Linked DNA regions of Homo sapiens: region 2 is linked to region 1. Evidence: fine-mapped expression QTL. A gene starts in region 1. The other region holds a variant in brackets. All regions are shown on one strand. Distances are from middle to middle.

Region 1 (8,822 bases):
CATTCTTCCTGAGGAACCCCAGGTCATAACCCAGAGATACTGTCCATTCACTGGGCCCATTTTGAGCTTGACCACAATCTGTCTCTCCATCTTCAACAATATTTACGGCTTTATTTGTTCCTTAAAAGAAGAAGTAACTCGACTATAGAGTTATGTTCTGCTTTGCTTGGCACAAAATAAATGTAACCTGGAGGCTCCAAGTATTCACACATTGGTGTGGTGGCTGTGAATTCTTCGGTAGTTTGCTCACTCTGGGCCCACTATCTGCAGAGTTTCTCTATGTCTACAGTAAGTTAAGGCACATGATCTAATTGAACTGTTGTAATTCGTTTTCTCTCAATGTTCTTGTTTTCTCAAAGGCAATTCATGAGGACTCATCCTGGGTCCATTTTCATAGATAATTGGAAACAAAGAATGAAGGAGTCCAGGGCAATGTGTAGTATGTTTGGTGGCCTCCATGTCAGTTTTCTATACACTTTGTCCTCGTGGCCTTTGTGGATACGGTTTGTGATACCAGAAACATACACTACTGACAAGACTTCATTTTATTTGTTATTTATTTTTGAAATGGAGTCTCACTCTGTCACCCAGCTGGAGTGTAGTGGTGCAATCTCGGGTCACTGCAACCTCCACCTCCCGGGTTCAAGTGATTCTCCTACCTCGGCCTCCTGAGTAGCTGGAATTACAGGCGCACGCTACCACACCCAGCTAATTTTTGTATTTTTAGTAGAGACAGAGTTTCACCATGTTGACCAGGCTGGTCTCAAACACCTGGCCTCAAGCGAGCCACCCACCTCGACCTGCCAAAGAGCTGGGATTACAGGCATGAACCACCACGCCCGGTCAGACTTTAGGTAGTATAGAGTGAAAAGGATACCCATTGTCAAGGCTACTAAAGTTAGCAGTATAAAAATGAAAGGGATTGAAAGGCTAAGTTATTGCAAGGAACATATTCAAAATATTGGCTTTTTCTTTCAACTTCAGCTTCTTTTCTATGAAACAATTAGATAAGAGGAGAAAGACAATATGATACTGGGTAATTTTTACATTTTCATGAAAGGAGAAAAATACCATGTCCTATAGGTTTGATGCAGGGGAAAAGGGAAGATCTAAGAAGGGGTTTGTGAACTAAGTTAAATCTTACCACTATAATACCATAAACTCTTATATGATAGGTTTTTCTTTGTTTGTTTGTTTAAAGCATATAGCCAAGAAGAGCTTCATTTTTAGATATAACAGGTGGTTGTCATTGTAATTTCTGAATATCATGCAGAATAACTGAAAAACAATGTTTCCTTCACCACTTAACTCAGTGAATGAACGCTACCTTCCTTTGTGGTCATATATTAAACCACAAATATTCCTGGCAAATGTACTACACTTAATTATTTGCAGTCAATACTTTGAAAGGGGGGTTTTGGTAGCTAGCTGAGAACAAATGAAAGAGGACAAAGGACCTAAAGGTGGGCACAGCAAAAATTAAGACACAGCTTCGTCTGACGCCAATCTGGGAGTAATTATATAACACATTATTTTTTCATTGACAAATATATTCTATTTGATCCTTCTTTACAAATTTATAGATATGTACATAATAACTTTTAGAATATGTCAAAATGCAGGGAATCAACCTAAATGCCCATCAATTACAGATTAGATAAAGAAAATATGGTACATATACACCATGGAATACTATAGACAGCCACAAAAATAGATGAGATCATGTCTTTTCCAGGAATGTGGCTGGAGCTGAAGGCCATTATCCTTAGCAAACTAATGCAGGAACAGAAAACCAACTACCACATGTTCTCACAAGTGGAAGCTAAAAGATGGGAGCTCATGGACACAAAGAAGGGAACAACTGATACTGGTGCCTACTTGAAAGTGAAGGTTGGGAGGAGGGAGAGAAGCAGAAAAAAATAACTATTGAGTATTAGGCTTAGTACCTGGGTACTAACGACTTGAGTTTACCTATAAAACAAACCTGCGCATGTACCCCAAAACTAAAATAAAAGTTAAAAAATAAAATATGTCAATATGCAACATACCTAATAAAAGCAAAGGTATTTATTAAATGAGTTTGTTTAAAAATGAGATAACTGTGCTTACAATGTATTGTTCTGTTAAAGGCACTAGCAATCTCTATGTATTTACTTACCACCAGAGATGTCCGTAAGGAACAGCCAGAACTCTACTTCAGTACCTTAGGTGTGATGCTCACATTAGGACAATATCTAGGGAAGGCAGGCCATGACACAGGCAAATGACATCACAAATAACTTCTGGAAGAGAAAAAAGTGACCCAGCTGGTATAAGCCTGGGTCGTCTGAGCCTCTGTATATCAGCACTGACTTTCATTTTTCCCCCTCACATGTCCCTTACACAGCCCTTAATGTTTCTAGAGAGGCACGCAGTTTACAGGCACACGCTTGAGGATCAAAAGACCAAGGTTCTCAACCTAAGTCCTAAATTTTACTCTTACAAATTATATTATTTAATTTCAATGAGGTTTTTCTGTCAGCTGTAAAAATATAATCATTATATGAACTTAGTAAATATTTTTTCAGTGTTCACTAATAATAAGGGATCATGGAGGATACAAGAAAAGGTAGACATTCCATGTCCTGTAAATATAGAACATTAAATGGCATAAATAAAAAATGTACACAAAGAACTCTGAGACATGATAAATGGGGATGGGCAGCAAATAGCAATACTGCAAGTATTGCTGGTGTCAGAGAAGAAACAAGCTTGATGAGCCTTGTGCTAAGGAAGTAAAGTGAGGAGGAGGTGGAGAGGACAATGCAGCTGACAGAGGGAAAAACAGGAGCAGAGGGCGGGGGGATAGTAAGGAACGTGGGATGTGAAAGCCACCGGGCATTATACAACATAAAGTACAGACAGGCTATTATTTCAACCCTTTTATGGATCTAATTTTTCTCTTCAGAGATTCCCACCATGCTCATTTCAACCTGTTTTCTTTACCTACATAAGAATGTTAGAGGGGGAGAAAGTGACTCTACGTGATTTTCGCAAGGTCTCGCACTTTCCCTAGAGAGGATTCTGTTTGTCCTGTTAATGAATTGAGTTCCCTGTGAGCAAAGGGAGGATTTTACTTCTGAGTCAATTATTTATTGTCACCTAGACAAGATCTCACATGACTTGTTAAAATTATAAATCATCTTATAACTCAGCATGTGAGCAAATAACTTTTCCCCAGTCCTGGTTTGCAAGTTCACCTGCCTCTCACCAGCCCACCTCCATCCCTCCTGGCTTGGAGAAGTGGCGTTTCTCTAACCCACATTCCTCCACCAGTGCCTTGCAGAGTCTTCATCAATTACTCCCCCTTTCCCCTCCATCTTAATCACCACCTCTCAGTTCTTTGTACTCCGCTTACAAAAATACTCACCTGGTTCCCTTGTCCTTGTGTTCCCCTCGTCTCCTGCCAATTTCCCATCATCTTTTTTAATGAGAGGCCCACCCTCCCTGTCCTCACCTTCCCTCTCCTCTTCTCTCCATGGTTCATGGGAGCATGTCTTCCAGAATGGTGCTTTCTCATCTAGTTTTCTTCCCATCACTCTGGCAGAGTCTTCTCAGTTTTCTTAGATGATTCCTCTGCCACTAATCATTCTGTTAAAATATGGATACTTCATTTTCGTGATCCCAAATCAAAGAATTCCTAATCTAGCCTCTCCTGGGACGTCCTGAGTTTTGGTTCCAAATTACTATTTATCTTCTCCACTTGTGTGTCTACAAAAAAATGTATATAAATATAATTAGACGAATGTCTATAATGTATATCAGTCAAACATGAAAGTCATTGTGCATTCACCAAAACATCTCAAATCATTGTTTTTGCTATTAAACACATCTATTGGGGAGGAAACACTCGGTGGTAAAAAGAGCAAAGACATTCAAAGAAGAACAGATTTTAGAATGACTATTTACTAAACATTTATATTATGTATCAGGCACTATGCTAGTTGGGTGTACAATCATGACCCTCATAACTATGTGATTTTGGCAGTCCTTAAAACTTGAATTCAGTTTTCTCAACTCCGAACTGAGAACAATTTATGTCATGAGACTCTTGTGTTAATTAAATGAAATCATGTGTATAATCTGCCAAGAATAATGCCTGATTTCGTAGGTGCTTAGCATATGGTGGTCATTTCCTTCCCTCCATAGGCTAAATGTCAATGGAAGGCATGAAGATGAACAGGACATGGGCCCTGCCTCAAGCAGCTCACATTCAGGATTCTGCCTCCTTTCATCAGCCATAAAGGACTCCAGACAAATAGGGAACAAAGTGACAGGCTAAATACAAATGCTTCAAACAAAATCTTGACTCCCTCATCCAAAGACAGTGTGATAAGAATAAGACGGGGTGTGAAGCTCTCCTCCTGGTCTGGGCACTCAACCAATATTCCATCATCTACAACAGTCGTTTGCCAACCTTTAATTGCACGCTGTATAAATAAGCAACAAAGAAAAGGATCTGGAGGGAAGGGAGGCTGAGTTAGGATAAATAATTTAGTTCAGTGTGTAATACTTGCTTGCGTAGACACAGACACTAACAGCATTCTGTTCATTCAAAAACAATATTCACCAACATTTATTGAAATTTGACTCTATACCAGGAAATAGCTGAGCTAGGTGTGAACAAACAGAGATGCAAAGACATCAGTCCTGTCCTGAAAGAACATACTTTCAAATGGTGTTATTTCCAGTTGCCAATTATTTTGGTCTGTTGCTTAGATTTGGATTGGAAAACCACACTCTTCATTTAAAACTTAATTTAGCTTTTTTGTGGGACACAAATCAAGTCCCATTTAGAAAAAGACATTGCTTTCCTAAAAGTAATGTTTCAAGGTTAATTCATCAAGACAGAAAAATATAGTTTTTTCTAAATGCTTCTACACACCTTCAAAATGTAGACTGTCACTAACATATCAGTGGATTATGCTCTGAAACTTTATTTGTAAATCCTTTAAAACTCAGAATGCGTACTACAAAGAAATAGTATTAGAGTTGGATTTTTGACCAACCTGTAAAAGCTGACTGAACTACAATGTAGCTGAGATAATGGCATTAATAAAACTCTAAAGCCAAGTTTTCGTATATTCCCATGCTAAAGTGTATTCAGGAAAATAACTGCAATAGTGGTAATCCTGACAGCTGGACCAGTGCCCCCACGCTCCTTATTCTCTCTTCTATCTGATAGTGGAGTGAAAATTTCATAGATTGACGGCCCTAGTGGAGGACACCATGGAGAACAGGGAACAAAGAACAGCAACTAAGTGGGGGCCAAGACAGGTGCTCCAGGGATGGGAAGCCAAGGTGGAAATTCTTGGGTGAGGAAAGAGACAAAGGCTCCATGTGGCTGCTGAGAATCTAGTCCAGGGAATAAGGACTGAAGTGGGGCCAACATCATTTTTTACGGTGATGAGGGACTGAAGGCTGCATACAAGGGAGATAATTGAAGCATGTAAAGCATAATTTTTGGCACATAGTCAGGCTCAATAAATGGTGATAATGATACTGGAGATGATGGAATAGAGGCAAAAACTGTGGGTTTTGCTTCTTCATTTGTTTTTTGGAATACAACCTATTTGGAGGCTAATTTTATTTGTCAGGAACATGAAACTCCAATGTCAGTGGCAGATGGAGTTACTGGAGCAGGGCGATGGTTGTGCAGATGGGACATGTAGGTAAAGGAACGTTGCACTAGTGGGGCTCTTGGGACCAAGATAGGATATGTGAGCTTGTCCTCTCATCTTTCTCCTTTCCCATGCCATTCTTTTCACCTAAAGCTTGAGATGCAAGGATGTGGGGTTTGGGGAGACACATCCTAGACAGAGGCAGAGGTGGGGTGGGGGAAGAACAAGAAGAAGAAAAACGCTTCAATAGGATTAAGAAACAACTGATGTTCTAGTGCAGCCCACTCCTCCCATGCAGAGCAAAGGTACTACACCATGCGTTCCGAAAATGCTAAAAAAGGCAAAAGAAGGCAGTGCTTCCTTAGGTAATTTAATGATATGATCATCCTTTTTCTACCCTTAGTTACATGTTAGCCCTAAGCAATCTGCACAAGCTTCCAGGAATGACTCTCAACAGGACTCTTCCAATCTTTGTTTTTGTCAAAGATTCCACCAATTTTTTTCCCACCTATTTTTAGATCCTACCTTTCTCTCCCACTCTCATCTGCTGTCATAGGAAAAGAATGCATGAAAATGTGGCCAGGTGATCATCTGATTCTGAAGATTTATTCCTAACGTCAGTTGTTTCAGAAGGGGTGTTCTCATCGGCCAATCTCCTGATGAAAGGTGTGACATGTCTTTCAGATTATCAGAAAATCTAAATTTGGATAGTGCTGTCATTTATAGTGACACTTAGTCAACTTACATTTACCAAATATAAAGATAATAATTGCTTGATGTACAGGCTGTAATTCGATCACAGCCATCAGTGACATGACTATTTGTTGTTATAGCAATATAAATGAAATTATGCCTATGGCAGCCTAATTAGAAAAGCACCATCACGACCCAGCTGGCATTTTCAATATGTTATCTAAGAGGTATGATAAGAAGACAAATCAGAGCTGACTTAATGAAGTTTCTGATCAGAGGCTGCTCTGAAGACAATGAGCTATTGAAGGAGACAAAGAGGAACTCATGACTTGCAAATTTATGCAGGCTGTTACAGAACAACAAAACACAACAGAGTTTGCAAGATTCGATCTTGTTGAGAGTGGTAGCAATAGAAATTTTCTTCCTTCTCAACAGCAGGATCCCAATTCATAAAAATTTAACTATGAAAATAAGCTTAAAGATTACTTAGTTCAGTGATATTCAAGTGGGGGTACCCCCAAGGGTCTTTTAAAAATCTCCCAGCAGACATTTGCAAAGTAATCCCTCCCAATACCATGATACACCTATGGGTTGGGGGACATGACGTTGTCTGTACCCCATTTAAGAATCATGACAATAGGACCAGCATAATGTAGGGACTAAGAAGAAGCACCTAGATATTGGATAGGCCAGAATTCATGAGGGCTGTTACTCACTAGATGTGTGACCTTGCTGAATTTCTTAAATCCTCTGAGTTGATTTTCTTATCTCTGAATTAGAGATAATAGAATATAAAGTAAAATTATGTGCTTCAGAAAAACAAATGAGGAAAAACACTTAGCTCATCATCTGGCACATAGTAGGTACTCAATTAATGTTCCATATAACTCTACCACTACTACTACTATTACTACTACTACTGAACAGGCTGGGCAGCTGCTGTCCAGTATGTTGAGGCAGAAAAAAGACTGAGGTCAGAAAACTGGTCCAACCTACTGAGGAGGAACCTGAGATCCAGAGGCAGAAGTGACTTGCCTAAAGTTACCCAGCTTATAGGAGTGTGAACCAGATTCCAGGGCTACAGATGGTGGGTGTTGTGATTTTTAGAACATACTGAATCCTTGGATTCTGACAACTTAAGTAATAATCAGTGAAAATAACCAGGGAAATGCAGTGGCCTAGCAGTCAAAGACAAATTTAGCTGTGCTTCTCTCCCTCTGTGCAGTCTCCCTGATGTTTCATAAAGTATCAAAGTGCATTGATTGAGGATAAGAAATCTGCTATTACTGCAATTCAACCAAACCCCTTTCCCCAGATCATACAGTGCATGTTCCATTACCTTTGAGACTTTGACTTTTCTCACCCCATAATTTGTCAGGCTGGTCTTCTATTATTGATCATTTGATCAGGGATGAGGTGTGAATATTATATGGCAATGTATGTATGTACACACTTATGTAGATTTAGCTATATGCATACATATATGTATATGTGGTATCAAATGTGTGTGTATTATACACACACATCCCAGAGATTTATAATCTTTGATCAATTTTTTTAACCTATTGTCAGTGCTATTGTTCTAGTTACTATAGCTACAGATGAAAAAAAACAATAGTGATAATAAGCACCCACACACACATACTTGTAATAGAAGACTCAGATGGTCCCTGTAAATGTTAATGTACTTTTAGAAAGTTGAAGAGCTGTGAATTATATAGTTTATAAGAGTCTTAAAGGACAAGGATAACTTACTGTGAAGCCTGTCATTCAAGGGAAGAGCAGAGTTTGACAGGAAACATGTATTAATACACTTAATGTAAAACCTAAAACCTAGAGAAGCACTCTAAGCCTGTCTTCTCTTCCTTCTTGCCATCTTCTTTAAAAGAAACAGGATTATTTCTCTTTTCCTATCTCTTTTCCTGGGTTTTTGATAAAGTGTTACTATTTCCACCAGTGGACTTCTCCCTCTTTCTCTCTCTGTCTCTGTTTCTCCCTTCTTCCTCCTTCCACCTCAGTTTTTCTCAGGATGGTGCAGCAGCCCATGGGTTCACACATATAGTCACTTGCCAGCCAAGGTCACTTTCCCCCACTCAGTTTCAGTGTTTACCTTTCCTATTCTTCCTGATTCTACTTCCTGTTATCCCTGCTTCCTGCTCCAACTTCCTCTCGTGGTTTCTTACAGCTACATCCATTTCCCAAATCCCCCTCCCTAGGTCCTGATTTCTGTGTCCAACTCAGGCCGGCAATCATGCTTCGCCTTCTGACTGTCCTCTTGGTATGGCTGCTTCAATGTACCCATCTGATCCTAGACTGTATCTCCATTCTGACTCATTCTTACTTTTTTTCCGTAGAACCGATGGTAATACAGAATAAAATTTTATTGTAGAACTTATTTTGTGTAATAAAGACAATGGAATGTTCCTTGGTCTGAATTTCAAAAGCAAGTGAATAGAACAAGTTATAATT
Region 2 (8,822 bases), 45 kb before region 1:
AGTTTGAGACCAGCCTGGCCAATGTGGTGAAACTCCATCTCTACAAAAAATTTAAAAAATGGGGGGGAAGCAGCCAAGATGGCCAAACAGGAACAGCTCCGGTCTACAGCTCCCAGCGTGAGTGACACAGAAGACAAGTGATTTCTGCATTTCCATCTGAGGTACCGGGTTCATCTCACTAGGGAGTGCCAGACAGTGGACGCAGGACAGTGGGTGCAGCACACTGTGTGCGAGCTGAAGCAGGACGAGGCATTGCCTCACTCAGGAAGCGCAAGGGGTCAGGGAGTTCCCTTTCCTAGTCAAAGAAAGGGGTGACAGATGGCACCTGGAAAATCGGGTCACTCCCACCCTAATACTGCGCTTTTCCGACGGGCTTAAAAAACAGTGGACCAGGAGATTATATCCCGCACCTGGCTCGGAGGGTCCTACGCCCACGGAGTCTTGTTCATTGCTAGCACAGCAGTCTGAGATGAAACTGCAAGGCGGCAATGAGGCTGGGGGAGGGGCGCCCGCCATTGCCCAGGCTTGCTTAGGTAAACAAAGCAGCTGAGAAGCTCGAACTGGGTGGAGCCCACCACAGCTCAAGGAGGCCTGCCTGCCTCTGTAGGCTCCACCTCCGGGGGCAGGGCACAGACAAACAAAAAGACAGCAGTAACCTCTGCAGACTTAAATGTCCCTGTCTGACAGCTTTGAAGAGAGAAGTGGTTCTCCCAGCACACAACTGGAGATCTGAGAAGGGGCAGACTGCCTCCTCAAGTGGGTCCCTGACCCCTGACCCCTGAGCAGCCTAACTGGGAGGCACCCCCCACTAGGGGCAGACTGACACCTCACACGGCCGGGTACTCCTCTGAGACAAAACTTCCAGAGGACCTATCAGACAGCAGCATTCGCGGTTCATGAAAATCCGCTGTTGTGCAGCCAACGCTGCTGTTACCCAGGCAAACAGCGTCTGGAGTGGACTTCTAGCAAACTCCAACAGACCTGCAGCTGAGGGTCCTGTCTGTTAGAAGGAAAACTAACCAACAGAAAGGACATCCACACCAAAAACCCATCTGTACATCACCATCATCAAAGACCAAAAGTAGATAAAACCACAAAGATGGGGAAAAAACAGAGCAGAAAAACTGGAAACTCTAAAAAGCAGAGTGCCTCTCCTCCTCCAAAGGAAGGCAGTTCCTCACCAGCAACGGAACAAAGCTGGATGGAGAAGGACTTTGTCAAGTTGAGAAAAGACGGCTTCAGACGATCAAACTACTCCGAGCTACAGGAGGAAATTCAAACCAAAGGCAATGAAGTTAAAAACTTTGAAAAAAATTGAGAAGAATGTATAACTAGAATAACCAATACAGAGAAGTGCTTAAAGGAGCTGATGGAGCTGAAAGCTCAGGAGCCGATGCGATCGACTGGAAGAAAGGGTATCAGTGATGGAAGATGAAATGAATGAAATGAAGTGAGAAGGGAAGTTTAGAGAAAAAAGAATAAAAAGAAATGAACAAAGCCTCCAAGAAATATAGGACTATGTGAAAAGACCAAATCTATGTCTGATTGGTGTACCTGAAAGTGACGGGGAGAATGGAACCAAGTGGGAAAACACTCTGCAGGATATTATCCAGGAGAACTTCCCCAATCTAGCAAGGCAGGCCAACATTCAGATTCAGGAAATACAGAGAACGCCACAAAGATACACCTCGAGAAGAGCAACTCCAAGACACATAATTGTCAGATTCACCAAAGTTGAAATGAAGGAAAAAATGTTAAGGGCAGCCAGAGAGAAAGGTCGGGTTACCCACAAAGGGAAGCCCCTCAGACTAACAGCGGATCTCTCGGCAGAAACTCTACAAGCCAGAAGAGAGTGGGGGCCAATATTCAACATTCTTAAAGAAAAGAATTTTCAACCCAGAATTTCATATCTGGCCAAACTAAGCTTCATAAGTGAAGGAGAAATAAAATACTTTACAGACAAGCAAATGCTGAGAGATTTTGTCACCACCAGGCCTGCCCTAAAAGACCTCCTGAAGGAAGCGCTAAACATGGAAAGGAACAACCAGTACCAGCCGCTGCAAAATCATGCCAAATTGTAAAGACCATAGCAGCTAAGAAGAAACTGCATCAACTAATGAGCAAAATAACCAGCTAATATCAAAATGACAGGATCAAATTCACACATAACAATATTAACTGTAAACGTAAATGGACTAAATGCTCCCATTAAAAGACACAGACTGGCAAATTGGATGGAGTCAAGACCCATCAGTGTGCTGTATTCAGGAAACCCATCTCACGTGCAGAGACACACATAGGCTCAAAATAAAAGGATGGAGGAAGATCTACCAAGCAAGTGGAAAACAAAAAAAGGCAGGGGTTGCAATCCTAGTCTCTGATAAAACAGACTTTAAACCAGCAAAGATCAAAAGAGACAAAGAAGGCCATTACATAATGGTAAAGGGATCAATTCAACAAGAAGAGCTAACTATCCTAAATATATATGCACCAAATACAGGAGCACCTAGCTTCATAAAGCAAGTCCCGAGTGACCTACAAAGAGACTTAGACTCCCACACAATAATAATGGGAGACTTTAACACCCCACTGTCAACATTAGACAGATCAACAGGACAGAAAGTTAACAAGAATACCCAGGAATTGAACTCAGCTCTGCACCACGCAGACCTAATACACATCTACAGAACTCTCCACCCCAAATCAACAGAATACACATTTTTTTCAGCACCGCACCACACCTATTCCAAAATTGACCACATAGTTGGAAGTAAAGCTCTCCTCAGCAAATGTAAAAGAACAGAAAGTATAACAAACTGTCTCTCAGACCACAGTGCAATCAAAGTAGAACTCAGGATTAAGAAACTCACTCAAAACCGCTCAACTACATGGAAACTGAACAACCTGCTCCTGAATGACTACTGGGTACATAACGAAATGAAGGCAGAAATAAACATGTTCTTTGAAACCAACGAGAACAAAGACACAACATACCAGAATCTCTGGGACACATTCAAAGCAGTGTGTAGAGGGAAATTTATAGTACTAAATGCCTACAAGAGAAAGCAGGAAAGATCCAAAATTGACACCCTAACATCACAATTAAAAGAACTAGAAAAGCAAGAGCAAACACATTCAAAAGCTAGCAGAAGGCAAGAAATAACTAAAATCAGAGCAGAACTGAAGGAAATAGAGACACAAAAAACCCTTCAAAAAATTAATGAATCCAGGAGCTGGTTTTCTGAAAGGATCAACAAAATTGATAGACTGCTAGCAAGACTAATAAAGAAGAAAAGAGAGAAGAAACAAATAGACACAATAAAAAATGATAAAGGGGATATCACCACCGATCCCACAGAAATACAAACTACCATCAGAGAATACTACAAACACCTCTACACAAATAAACTAGAAAATCTAGAAGAAATGGATAAATTCCT[C/T]GACACATACACCCTCCCAAGACTAAACCAGGAAGAAGTTGAATCTCTGAATACACCAATAACAGGCTCTGAAATTGTGGCAATAATCAATAGCTTACCAACCAAAAAAAGTCCAGGACCAGATGGATTCACAGCCGAATTCTACCAGAGGTACAAGGAGGAATTGGTACCATTCCTTCTGAAACTATTCCCATCAATAGAAAAAGACGGAATCCTCCCTAACTCATTTTATGAAGCCAGCATCATCCTGATACCAAAGCTGGGCAGAGACACAACCAAAAAAGAGAATTTTAGACCAATATCCTTGATGAACATTGATGCAAAAATCCTCAATAAAATACTGGCAAACCGAATCCAGCAGCACATCAAAAAGTTTATCCACCATGATCAAGTGGGCTTCATCCCTGGGATGCAAGGCTGGTTCAATATACGCAAATCAATAAATGTAATCCAGCATATAAACAGAACCAAAGACAAAAACCACATGATTATCTCAATAGATGCAGAAAAGGCCTTTGACAAAATTCAACAACCCTTCATGCTAAAAACTGTCAATAAATTAGGTATTGATGGGACGTATCTCAAAATAATAAGAGCTATTTATGACAAACCCCCAGCCAATATCATACTGAATGGGCAAAAACTGGAAGCATTCCCTTTGAAAACTGGCACAAGACAGGGATGCCCTCTCTCACCATTCCTATTCAACATAGTGTTGGAAATTCTGGCCAGGGCAATTAGGCAGGAGAAGGAAATAAAGGGTATTCAATTAGGAAAAGAGGAAGTCAAATTGTCCCTGTTTGCAGATGACATGATTGTATATCTAGAAAACCCCATTGTCTCAGCCCAAAATCTCCTTAAGCTGATAAGCAACTTCAGCAAAGTCTCAGGATACAAAATCAACGTACAAAAATCACAAGCATTCTTATACACCAATAACAGACAAACAGAGAGCCAAATCATGAGTGAACTCCCATTCACAATTGCTTCAAAGAGAATAAAATACCTAGGAATCCAACTTACAAGGGACATGAAGGACCTCTTCAGGGAGAACTACAAACCACTGCTTAATGAAATAAAAGAGGATACAAACAAATGGAAGAACATTCCATGCTCATGGGTACGAAGAATCAATATCGTGGAAATGGCCATACTGCCCAAGGTAGTTTATAGATTCAATGCCATCCCCATCAAGCTACAAAAGACTTTCTTCACAGAATTGGAAAAAACTACTTTAAAGTTCATATGCAACCAAAAAAGAGCCCGCATCGCCAAGTCAATCCTAAGCCAAAAGAACAAAGCTGGAGGCATCATGCTACCTGACTTCAAAGTATACTACAAGGCTACAGTAACCAAAACAGCATGGTACTGGTACCAAAACAGAGATATAGATCAATGGAACAGAACAGAGCCCTCAGAAATAACGCCACATATCTACAACTATCTGATCTTTGACAAACCTGAGAAAAATAAGCAATGAGGAAAGGACTCCCTATTTAATAAATGGTGCTGGGAAAACTGGCTAGACATATGTAGAAAGCTAAAACTGGATCCCTTCCTTATACCTTATACAAAAATTAATTCAAGATGGATTAAAGACTTAAACGTTAGACCTAAAACCATAAAAACCCTAGAAGAAAACCTAGGCAATACCATTCAGGACATAGGCATGGGCAAGGACTTCATGTCTAAAACACCAAAAGCAATGGCAACAAAAGCCAAAATTGACAAATGGGATCTAATTAAACTAAAGAGCTTCTGCACAGCAAAAGAAACTACCATCAGAGTGAACAGGCAACCTACAAAATGGGAGAAAATTTTCACAACCTACTCATCTGACAAAGGTCTAATATCCAGAATCTACAATGAACTCAAACAAATTTACAAGAAAAAAACAAACAACCCCATCAAAAAGTGGGCGAAGGACATGAACAGACACTTCTCAAAAGAAGACATTAATGCAGCCAAAAAACACATGAAAAAATGCTCACCATCACTGGCCATCAGAGAAATGCAAATCAAAACCACAATGAGATACCATCTCACATCAGTTAGAATGGCAATCATTAAAAAGTCAGGAAACAACAGGTGCTGGAGAGGATGTGGAGAAATAGGAACACTTTTACACTGTTGGTGGGACTGTAAACTAGTTCAACCATTGTGGAAGTCAGTGTGGTGATTCCTCAGGGATCTAGAACTAGAAACACCATTTGACCCAGCCATCCCATTACTGGGTATATACCCAAAGGACTATAAATCATGCTGCTGTAAAGACACATGCACATGTATGTTTATTGCGGCATTATTCACAATAGCAGAGACTTGGAACCAACCCAAATGTCCAACAATGATAGAGTGGATTAAGAAAATGTGGCACATATACACCATGGAATACTATGCAGCCATAAAAAAGGATGAGTTCATGTCCTTTGTAGGGACATGGATGAAACTGGAAATCATCATTCTCAGTATACTATCGCAAGAACAAAAAACCAAACACCGCATATTCTCACTCATAAGTGGGAATTGAACAATGAGAACACATGGACACAGGAAGGGGAACATGACACTCTGGGGACTGTTGTGGGTTGGGGGGAGGGGGGAGGGATAGCATTAGGAGATATACCTAATGCTAAATGATGAGTTAATGGGTGTAGCACACCAGCATGGCACATGTATACATATGTAACTAACCTGCACATTGTGCACATGTACCCTAAAACTTAAAGTATAATAATAATAAAATAAAATAAAATAAAAAATTAAAAAAATTAAAAATTAAAATAAAAAATAAAAAAAAATTTTAAAAATGAAAAACATTAGCCAGGCATGGTGGCAGGCGTCTGTAATCCCAACTACTCGGGAGGCTGAGGTAGGAGAATTGCAGAGGATGTAGTGAGCCGAGATTGTGCCAGTGCACTCCAGCCTAGAGGACAGAGCAAGACTCTGTCTCAAAAAAAAAAAGAAGGATTATTTTTTTTTAAAAAAGAGTCCTTCAAAACCACAATGTGATACCAGTCAGAATGGCTACTATTAAAAATTTAAAATAACAGATACTGGCAAGGTTATATCATTTATAAATGGTATTACTTGCTGTAATGCCAATATATGTAATGCCATGGACTGAGTCTGGTTACTTATGCTGACCTATGAATGGATCGAAGTGTCAATAATTAAAATGTCTGCCTTGGATGTAAGGAAACTGTGAATATACAAATGACCACTATAGTTTCTCATAATATTGAATTTTCTGTCTTATCATCATGTATTTCTTAGTGATACATCAATTCAGCACTTCTAGAAGTCAAATGTACATATACATTATCATGAACTATAATCCAGGTTGGACTCTTTTTTTAATTTAACTTTTAAGTTCAAGGATACACATGCAAGTTTGTTATATAGGTAAACTTGTGTCATGGGGGGTTTGTTGTACAGATTATTTTGCAACCCAGGTATTAAGACATTAGTTATTTTTCCTGATCCTTTCTCTCCTCCCACCCTTCACCCTCCACCCTCCTATAGGCCCCAGTGTTGTTGTTCTCCTCTATGTGTCGATGTATTCTCGTCATTTAGCTCCTACCTATAAGTGAGAATATGTGGTGTTTGGTTTTCTGTTCCTGTGTTAGTTTGCTAAGGATAATGGCCTCCAGCTCCAACCACATTCCTGCAAAGGACACAATTGTTCTTTTTTATGGCTGCATGGTATTCTATGGTGTATATATACCACATTTTCTTTATCCAGTCTACCACCGATCAGCACTTAAGTTGATTCTATGTCTTTGCTATTGTGAATAGTGCTGCAGTGAACATACACGTGCATGTGTCTTTACAACAGAACGATTTATATTTCTTTGGGTGTATGCCTTCTAATGGGATTGCTAGGTGAAATGGTATTTCTGTTTTTGGGCCTTTGATGAATTGTCACACTGTCTTTTACAATGGTTGAATTAATTTACAGTCCCACCAACAGTGTATAAGCATTCCTTTTTCTCTGCAACCTTGTCAGCATTTGTTATTTTTTGACTTTTTAATAATAGCCATTCTGATTGGTGTGAGGTGGTATCGCATTGTGGTTTTGAAGAACCCTTTTTTTTAAAAAAAAAAAAAATTGATTCTATTATGATTAAGAGGTTTAAAAAATTTCTGGACATAATAGAAGAGATTTATAAAAATATGAGCACTAGTGTTGATCATAGCAAAACTTAATTAATGACTGAATCACCTGTTTGTGTTATAAAATGCAAGCTTCAACAAAAATAACATTACACAAAAATGACAAAAATAGTTTGAAATTTGCAATTTACTTGCCAGCTGAGAGTAAACCTATTTCATTGTAGGTTGTGTCTCAAAATACTGGTGTCATTTGACACATACAAAGAACATTATGAGAAACTTATTAAAATTTCTGAGGCAAAGTAGAAGAACATTCAGGCATCCTAGGAACTAACATGTGTGTAATACGGATAAGAATACAAAAGCTGGAGAAACCTTCCCTATGTTGTTGTAAAATAATTGATGAAACACATATAATCCTACAGGCAAATAAATGCAAAAGCAGTGACTGGGGACAAAGCAAGCAAAATGATTGATAAAGTGCCTCTGTCAAATAAGAGTCTATTTTGGAATTGCAGCTATGAACAGAAAGTAAAGGACCAATTATTATTCAGAGAATGACAAAGTCAATAAAATTCTCTGAAAACTGATGAATCTACCAGTATTGTACAGTAAGAAAATCTTTTGTAATTGTCTGACATGATCTGAGTAAAGTGATGTATAAAAAATTTTTCTCAGCCAAATTGTACATTTGAAGTAATATTTTGTAAATGTATTGATTATTTCAGGTAATCAATAGCAATGATAAGAAGTGATATTGAGGCAGGAAATAAGCTCTGCATACAGGGAACCTAAAGAATTCCTAGAACTAAATTAAACTGAAAAACCCCAACCTTCTAAACCCAAGTGTTAATAAAGAGCTTTGTAACTTCACTTCAGCTACGGTAGCAAACATCCTCTTCATTTGCATAGGACGTACACCAAGTAAATAACTTTGTAACTTCACTTCATCCTCTTCATTTACATAGGGCATACACCAAGTAACCAATGGGAAATCTCTAAAGGGTATTTAAACCCTAGAAAATTCTCTAACCAGTGCTCTTGAGCCGCTTGCTCAAGCCGGCTCCCACCCTGTGGAGTGTGCTTTTGTTTTCAATAAATCTCTGTTTTTGTTACTTCATTCTTTCCTTGCTTTGTTTGTGTGTTTTGTCCAATTCTTTGTTCAAAATGCCAAGAACCAGGACACCTGCCACCGGTAACAATACGACCAGGAATTCCACTCTGAGGTATCCACCCACAAGACCTGGAAGTATGTCCACACAAAGA

What was found. PIP is the estimated chance that this variant, and not a neighbour inherited with it, causes the effect.
Region 2: its variant is fine-mapped to the expression of CCDC54-AS1 in aorta (GTEx, PIP above 0.99).

The regions. Positions count from the first base shown.
Region 1 is chr3:107,378,427-107,387,248 of GRCh38, forward strand. CCDC54-AS1 (CCDC54 antisense RNA 1) reads right to left here and starts at 3,733. Exons shown (of 2, transcript NR_126332.1): 1 at 3,497-3,733; 2 at 2,050-2,282. CCDC54 (coiled-coil domain containing 54) reads left to right here. Exons shown (of 1, transcript NM_032600.3): 1 at 1-209. The coding sequence ends at 148.
Region 2 is chr3:107,333,682-107,342,503 of GRCh38, forward strand. No RefSeq gene overlaps it. Among named protein-coding and RNA genes, the nearest start is that of CCDC54, 39 kb to the right of the region's middle. The variant C/T (reference allele first, on the strand shown) is at 3,441.